Regions from separate parts of the Homo sapiens genome. Here region 1 is linked to region 2. Evidence: fine-mapped expression QTL. A gene starts in region 2. The other region holds a variant in brackets. All regions are shown on one strand. Distances are from middle to middle. Region 1 overlaps FREM2 (FRAS1 related extracellular matrix 2). Region 2 holds the start of FREM2 (FRAS1 related extracellular matrix 2).

What was found. PIP is the estimated chance that this variant, and not a neighbour inherited with it, causes the effect.
Region 1: its variant is the best candidate, but not a certain one, in a credible set for the expression of FREM2 in amygdala (GTEx, PIP 0.89).

The regions. Positions count from the first base shown.
Region 1 is chr13:38,747,643-38,752,038 of GRCh38, reverse strand. All of the region lies in intron 2 of FREM2 (FRAS1 related extracellular matrix 2), which reads right to left. Among named protein-coding and RNA genes, the nearest start is that of FREM2, 63 kb to the right of the region's middle. The variant A/G (reference allele first, on the strand shown) is at 2,083.
Region 2 is chr13:38,684,581-38,688,976 of GRCh38, reverse strand. It overlaps FREM2 (FRAS1 related extracellular matrix 2), which reads right to left and starts at 1,900. Exons shown (of 24, transcript NM_207361.6): 1 at 1-1,900. The coding sequence starts at 1,632. It overlaps LINC00437 (long intergenic non-protein coding RNA 437), which reads left to right and starts at 2,302. Exons shown (of 3, transcript NR_126377.1): 1 at 2,302-2,538.

The sequences.
Region 1 (4,396 bases), 63 kb before region 2:
TAATTAGTTGAACCCTTTGGTGATTGCTCTGATCCCTTTAGAATTGTGCCAGAGCCACAAAAGCAGCCCTTCTCATTAATTTCACTATCTCAGATTAATATAAAAGCTGTTCATTTTGTATATTTGGCTGCCAAAAGGAAAACACACACACACACACACACACACACACACACAGAGTAAGTACAAAAACAAGTTGGTGTGGTCTTAGAGCTCCAGTCCTTGTTAGAAAAAAAAAAAAGTTAGACAATGTACAGTTTTATTTAATTGATATTTTGGAACGAGGTCCATGAAAAGCACATATGTTAGGAAGTATAAAGTTGGTTTACATATAGTCCTTTCTGTGAAATGTAGACTCTAGTAAGGAGGGTAAACCAAATACTATACATACATTATAATACAAAATCTAAGGTGAAAAGCTAACAGAAATCTCCTGGGGCTCAGAGGAGGGAGGGGAGCACATTGGGTTGGAAAGACCATTAAAGGCTTGGCACAAGGGTCTGTGGATGGAGGATGGGCCCCTCCCAGAGGAAGGAACTGCAAGAAAACCGATTCAGGGAAGGACAAGTGCAGCATGTGTGTGGGCAGCAATAAGAGTCAAGCTCTGTAGGGTTTGTGAAAGGAAAAGGGGAGGAGGAGATAAGCTGGAAAACCAGGCTGCTCACAAAGGAAACTTGGGGCATAGAGAGACATAATTTGCACCACGCTTTAAGAAATATTGATTTGGAGACAGCAGGTGTTGGCAAGGATGTGGAGAAAAGGGAATTGCTGTACACTGTTGATGTGAATGTAAATTGGTACAGCCCTTATGAAAAACAATACAGAAGTTCCTCAAAAAAAAAAAAAAAAGAACTGTCATATGATCCAGCAATCCCACTTCTGAGTATATATTCAAAGAATATTAAATCAGGATATTGAAGGAATATCTGCATTCCCATGTTCACTGTAGCGTTATTTACAATGGCTGAGACATGGAATCAACCTCAGTGCTTATCCATGGATGAAAAAAACAAAAAACAAAACTGTGGTAGAATTGTTGGTGGAAATGTAAAGTGTAGTGCAGCCACTACAGAAAACAGCATGGCTTTGGGAGGCCAAGGCAGGCAGATCACCTAAGGTCATGAGTTCAAGACCAGCCTGGCCAATATGGCAAAATCCCATCTCTACTAAAAAGTACAAAAATCAGTTGGGTGTGGTGGTGGGTGCCTGTAATACCAGCTACTTGGGAGGCTGAGCAGGAGAACCGCTTGAACCCCAGAGGCAGAGGTTGTAGTGAGCTGACATTGTGCCACTGCACTCTAGCCTAGGCAACAGAGTGAGACTTCGTCTCAAAAAAAAAAAAGAAGAAAACAGCATGGCTAAAAACAGAACTACCATATGACCCAGTTATCCCACTGCTAGGTATATACCCAAAAGAAAGGAAATCAGTGTACTGAAGAGATATCTGCACTCCCAAGTCTACTGCAGCAGTATTCACAATAGCCAATATATGGAATCAATTTAAGTATTCATCAATGGATGAATGGATAAAGAAAATGTGTTCTATATACATAGTAGAGTATCATTCAACCATAAAAAAAATGAACTCTTGCCATTTGCAGCAATATGGTTGGTACTGGAAGTCGTTATACTAAGTAAAATAAGCTAGGCACAGAAAAACACAAAACACATGGATCTCACTCATAGGTAAGTCTCACTCCCGTTTTAAAAACCATCGGATCTCGTGAGACCCATTCATTATCACAAGAACAGCAAGGGAAAGACCGGCCCTCATGATTCAGTTACCTCCTACCAGGTCCCTCCCACAACACGTGGGAATTATGGAAGCTACAAGATGAGGTTTGGGTGGGGACACAGAGCCAAACCATATCAGAGGTACTCAAAGAGTCCATTCATTTTGATTAGTAAAAATAAATGACGAATAAATTTCTTGGAGGAGTTTTGGTCCTAAGCAACTATTTAGCCAAAATCCAAATGCATACTACATACAGGTAAAAGTTAGGCCCTACCCCTTTCCTTCTCTCTCTTTCAACTTAGGAAGAAAATGAGGATCAGTGTGACAAAATTTTTCTCCTAGGCCAAGAT[A/G]AACTATGTTTTGCTGCACTTGGTTAATATAAAATGCAGGTGGCATTTTTGAATATGTGGAGGATTTGAGACAATGATTACTGCAGAGAATTCATACTAATTGCATGCATAAACTTTTTAAAGAGCAGACTTGGAAAGTGAATACATTGACTTTACAATTAATAATAAGGTCTAAACCAGTAGTTCTTGGAGAAGGGGCAATAATTTTGCCCTTTGGGGAATGTTTGGCGATGTCTGGAGATAGTTTTGGCTGTCACAAGTTGGGGAGGGGGTGAAGGGCAAGGCAGGGGGTGTTACTGACATCTAATGGGTAGGGGCCAGGGAGCTACAGATCCCACAAGGCACAGGACAGTCAGACCCTCCCACCCAACACACACACAAAGCATTAGAATTATCTGGCCCCAAATGTCAATAGCACTGGGGTTGAGAAACCGTGGTCTGTACTTGTTATATTGTGATATATCAACATTTATAACCTAACATGAACATATGATCTGACTTTTCTTGGTAATTCATGTTTTCTTATAAATTGAATTGTGAATATATATGATGAAATGATAAAACTGCCTCCTCTTCTTACATAAATATGCAGAACTTTTCAAGTCCATCATTGATGTGGAAAAGTTTCCTGTAGGAAGTGTTTATTCTCTTGTTGCAGAAAGTAGTTGAGCCAGTAATTTTCCTACTGTCAACATTTATGGCTAATCCTTTCGGAAGTTAGAGGTGAGGAAGGATCTTGAGAAATGCACCAAACTGTGTCAAAGTTTGATACTGTATGCATGATTTAGATTTCAGTATGAAATCAAATATGTGGGTGATGATTTCCATGTTAGATGTTTTAAGCAGATTAGGCTTCACCAACCCATGTTAGAGCCGAGAACACAAAATAGAAAGGCTTCCTAAGGTCACTGCAGATAGACAAGACTGGGCACTGAACACAAGTTATCCAGACTCCCATGTCTTTATTGTAGCCCAAAAGAGAAATACTACATGTTCCAATGCACATGTGCTTGTCAGTACACACACATGTACCTGCACACACATGCATGCACAGCCTTACCTTTGTTCTTACAAAGAACAAAAATGCCTTCCTTTCCAAAAACATAGAGCTCACAGCATCCTTTACATGTTTTTCCGTTGAACAATTTGGGAAAGCACTTCCCAAAATAATTTTTTTGAATCTTATTTTTCCTGGTAGTTAATAGGTATTACATTTTAAAAAAAATCACTCTATGTTAACTAAGGGAAAAATAAGCTGTATTAAGCTATGTAAACAACATTCTTACCTGCAGTAATTCCTAGGGTCTTTAATATGTGAATATGCACTGAGGAAGTCTAAGGAAGGGATTGGAGCACACAGCATTTCTCAATCTCATTTCAGCAGGGAACCTGTGTCTTAAGGCATCATGTTAAGACTCTGATCTACAGCGCATAATTTGGGACAAGTTGCCTTTGAGTACAAACCATCCAAAACACAGATATGAGCAGAGAGCCTGTGCAGTATCAATCACATGCAGGTCACATAATTTTCGTTTGTCATATTTGACACTAATAGTTAGAACTGCACATCATAATCTTGAGGAACAAATCCAAATACAATTTAAAAACTTCTTCCCTACCAGCAATACAAATTCTGGTTCATGTCATTTCCATTTCCTAATCCAAATGGCAAAATAAATATGTTAGTTTGTAGAATGCCAAGAAAAATATAAGTTCAGGTAAACACAACTGACTACTGGTATATTCGTTCCACAGACAGACCACATTTACTGTTGGAACACACGCTTTGCTTTTTTTGCAACTTAACTATATAATGCCCCAGCCCTTTTTTTTAATTAGTCAAATGCGGGATCAGATCTCAGAAGAGACAAAGGTTAGGATTTTGGCCAGTTCCAAAAAACACAGCTAAAATCACCAACAATGTACAACGAGCTATGTCGGCCTCCTGTTTTCAGTTGGATCTTAGTCCCTGTGGATATTTGAACCTTACGATCTGCCCAGCTCTGATAAGGGATTTAAAGGCTTACTAAGAAGAATGCTTCTGAAGCTATTAAAACTACCAGTATGGGAAGCATGGACTAAGCTGGGTTTTGGAAAAAGGATAATGCTGCAACATAAACTTTAAGGCTGATAAACAGATACAAATTCTGAAAGCACATTGTTTCCTAGTCTGCACTTTTTCCTCACCCTGATCAGTAACTGTTTCCCATGAGAATATCAATAAATACAACAGTTCTGTACTCATCAATTTTAGAAGGAAGCTGATAGACAATTCTGAGTCATTGATTTGCATCTCAACTGATTATGGTAATAA
Region 2 (4,396 bases):
CTGGTGCCTGCCTCCTCCATCCACCATGCGAAGCACCAGGTTGTCGCTCAGCGAGCCGTCTCTGTCATCATGCTGGTAGACCACCTGGCCGGCTGCCAGCTCAGCCACTGTAAAGCTCTTGGGAGCAGAGCTGCCACTGGAAGCACCCAGAATGACAAGGTGACCATGCCGGAGCCCAGCCACCACCTCTAGCCGCACTGCTTCTAGGTCATCCTCATCGCTGATGACCAAGTTTTGCGGACCACTGCCTGCAGGGCCTGTGAGGGGCCGAGACTGACCCTCATAGAGAATAAGACCGGTATTCCGGGTGACCACCGGAGCCATTGTGTTCATGGGCTTCACCACTACCATGAAGGCAAAAGGGTCTGAAGCTGCTCCTTCTAGATCCACTACCTCCAATTCCAGTTCAAAGAGGCGCTCCTGGTCAGAGTCTTCAGAAGGGGGCTGGTAGGCAATCTTCAGGAGCCGCAGATCCCTCTGAGTGAAGGAGGAAAGGGGCAGGCTGCGATCATCGGTGCTCACCAAGTAGCCCTGGCCAGGCTGGAATGGAGAAGTAAGGTTGAAGATCAACAGGTCAGAGGGAGACTCAGCATCCTCGGCTGCCAGCATGTCTGGGGTCAGGGCCGTCAGTACAAACTGGTCCACCTCCATCATCATCATGGCCACGAAACTGGGCTTGGGTGCAGTGTTCTCGGCCCCTCCTCGGATCCTCACCAGAACCTGGAAGTGCTCGCGTTTCAAAGCAGGGCTGCCCACAGGAGCCCCTCGTGAACGCAGCTCCACCACCATGGGTATCCAGTCCCTGTTTGGTGAGCGACTGGCGGCTGTGTGGCGATAGCGCACGCCTAGTTCCTGGAAAGCTTTGCAGTCCATCAGGAGAGTCTCCGGGGCGCCTCCCTCTCTGGCTCCTCCAGGGACCTGCGGGTAGTGGAGGAGTTCTCCATAGCGAGGCAGCGCGCCCAAGCCGGACAGGATGCCCACGCGGCACTCCTCTGTCTCGGGCTGGAAGGCGAACTCCAGGCTCCGCGCGTCCAGGGCATTGCTGGTCCCCAGCAGCTCTTCCACGACCAGAGGCAAGTTCCGAGTCACAACCTCCAGCTGGGTGAAGACCACCTCCACCTCCAGTACCAGTGGTAGCACTACTGCCCCTCCGGGCGCGTCATAGCGCAGCTGCAGCCGGACGCGGTCCCGAGACGGGCTGCGCGCGCCCAGGTGAGAGTAGCGCACCTCGCCAGGGCCAAAGTCGCACGGGAAGCGCTTGGGACTCAGGCGGCCCGGTCGCTGGGCCAGTGCGTCGTTGTCTAGTACCGAAACCGCGCAGCGGTCCCCGGGCTGCACCTGCAACACCAGGTCATGCAGGGGATCCAGCCAGACTTCACGGCCGAAAGGCACCCGGAGTCCGCGGTTCGCCAGCACTATGGCCTCCTCAGCAGGGACCCCTGCAGCCCCCGCGAGACCAGGGGACAGCAACGCCCTGCCGAAGGCAGCGGGCTGTGCCGGGACGCGGCTTACCAGTGACAGGAGAAGCAGCAGCAGCAGCAGCAGCCGGGGCGGCGGTGGCGGTCCTGGTTGAAAGCTGGTGGAGTTGCCTGTCCGGCGCGAGGATAACCCGGGAGTCCCGGCTGAGTGCATGGTCCCGGTGTTCGGGCTTGGACAGGTCAGCCTGAGAGCATGCGAAGTCGGTCCCCGGGCAGACAACAAGAGACACCGCCGGGAAGTGCCAGGAACTCCGCGCGTTGCCCGCGGGGTCCTCCTGTAGCCGGGGCTGGGCCAGAAGGATGGCAAAGTTGCGCGGCGCCGTCCGGGCTGGAGCCGCAGCCGAGGAGCCGAAGCCTTCCCAGGCCGTCCAGCTCCGCCGCTAGCGCCTCAATCGCGCGGAGAATTGAATCCCTCCACTTCTACTTTCCAGGTCCCCGGACCCTGGGCTTTGAGGGAAATCCCTCCGCTCGCACCCCTTACTCCAGTCCTCCCAGGTGGCCAATCGTTGGTCGGGGGAGGAGGTGCGGAGCTGAGGGTTGGGTAGTAATTTCTGCCAATCAGCTCTTAGAGGCCAAGGCGGGGAAACTGCGGGGAGGGGAGGAGATAGAGGCGCAACAGGTTGTCCTGGAAGTGAGGGAAGAAGTGGCCAGGAGTTGCCCACCCCTGCTTGCGCTACTCTCTGGGCTGCTATTAATAGATCTGGTACTCCTGCAGAGGAGCCGGAACACACTGCTGTGCTGGGTTCACTTCATCTGCCGGCGACCGAGGGTTACCCATTTTAGCCACCCCCACCCCTCCGCCCTAGTCAATGAAATCCCGCGCAGGGCATGGCCATTTCCCAAGGAAACTTGCAAACCCAGGGGAAAGTTAGACGCAATGCTTTTTGAGTTTGAAGCGAAACCCAGAGCGTTTGAGAAGAAATTCTGGGGCATATTTGCAAAAGGACAGCTGGAATTAAAAGCCATAGCTAGAGCAGGTTGCACTCCAGCCCAGCCCCCTTCGGCGCGCCCAGACGCTGCCTTCTCCTCGTGAATTACAATGGGCACAGTCCTCCGATTGGTGAGTTTTTAACAAGCCCCTCCTTTGCAACCGAGGTTCACAGAGTAAAAGGGAAAAAGGGCATTTGGAATGCGTGAGAAATGCAGTCTGATCAGAATTGCTAGTCTTGCACCAAAGAATAAATTCTAGGGAATGTGGCCCCAGGCGCTCCCAAATCCGACTCTGTTAGGGTAGCTGTCATTAGAGACGTTCCTGTTCTCTTCGCAGTAATTAGACCAAGCACAAACTAAATCTACTTGTCAGCATCACATTTCTTTGCATGCCACGAAAATTGATAAATATCCGGAGGGCACACTAAAATAGTTTAGCTCTCATTTCAGCCAACAGGTTTTGAAGTCAGAGCTTGAGCTCTTCCTGCCCCCTTGTGTTTGTTTGGTTTTAGTAGTGTGTAGATTCCCTTTCTAAAAGGTTTTTTTATCAACTCTCCTCCCCCCCTCAAAAAAGATCCCTTGTAATTTAAACTTAATCATTTTCGGATTGGCTCCTAAGCAATCATAGTCAGAATGTTTTATTTAGGATAATATTTTTTTTCTCCAGTAATGCAAATCTGATTGCTAACAGGAGCATAGAATTGGAGTAATAGTCATAATTAGCCATAATTGCCCTTTTCCTGCTCCAAGGGATTTTGAATTTGGAAAAGAGGGAAATATAAGAAATTGTTAATGTCTTTTTACATTTCAGTCTAAATTGAAGCTAGAAGGTGCCTATGGGAGTAATTTCAGTAAGAAGTGCCTATCCTTTTAAGCCTTTGTGTTTTCAGCTTGAGCTCCTCCAGACCAGGATTTTGATCCTTGCTTGACACAGTTACAGCTATTTTCCAGGCTGCAGCACAAACTCTGTACATAAGTATGGCTGGGAGATGCCAGATTCCTTTCCATGAAACCTACTGAGTGGTGTCCGTTTCCAGGAATCATAGACAGGAAGTTCTAAAATCTTTCAAAAAGAAGCAAGAGATCAATTTAAAGGAGTCACTCATCCAAGCAAGTGTGCAAGCACGCAAACAAGTAACATTTAGTTAATTAAATATTAATTAAGATTATTCTGTGTGCTGTGCATTGTTTGAGGAGCTTTTAACTACAACTTAGAAACTGATGGATACATTTCACAATTTATTACAAAATGGGCATCCAGGAGCATAGAAGGGATGTGGCCCTTACTTTAAATACATTAGAAAATCCCCCATCTAACTCTTTACCAATTTCCTATTTGCTTTGTCATTATTATTTTATAATTTATATGATTATTTATTATCGCATACAGAATTCAAAATGCGGAACATGGGGGGAAATTCTGCTATTTCCTGTTCCAAATTAAAACAAATAAGATGCCAAGTAAACTAGAAAACCAATTTCAGAATATGGCTCTTTTTATAGTAAATTTCAAATTCTGGTTGTGTGTTTGTATTGAAAAATGTCATCTGGAAGCAAAGTGGCCTTATCCAGGCATTGTGACCCTGGGTAAATTCTGAGCAGAACCAGACTAACAGCTTGACCCTTGATGCTTCTTAGTGGCTCCAGGGTTTTCCTTTCCTCCTTTTAAAGTCCAACTCTGTTTGACTTGCAAGCAATGATAAGATCAGCATTTGAAGTATGGTAGTATGCCTCAAGGGCAGAGTTCAATATTTTGTTTCATGGTAAGAAAAATACAGGACCACATTTATTTTTACATAGCCTAAGGAAATCAATAAACTATAATCTTTTTGACTTTTTAATTTTGTCTGCCTTGATCGAAGTGATAGAATGATTTTTAGAGATTATTATTATTTTTTGGTAAATGTCTTAGTTATTTGTCTTGTAAATCAAATAGAAGGTAACTCAAACTATCATTTGGCTAAATATATTTTACATTGATGATCATT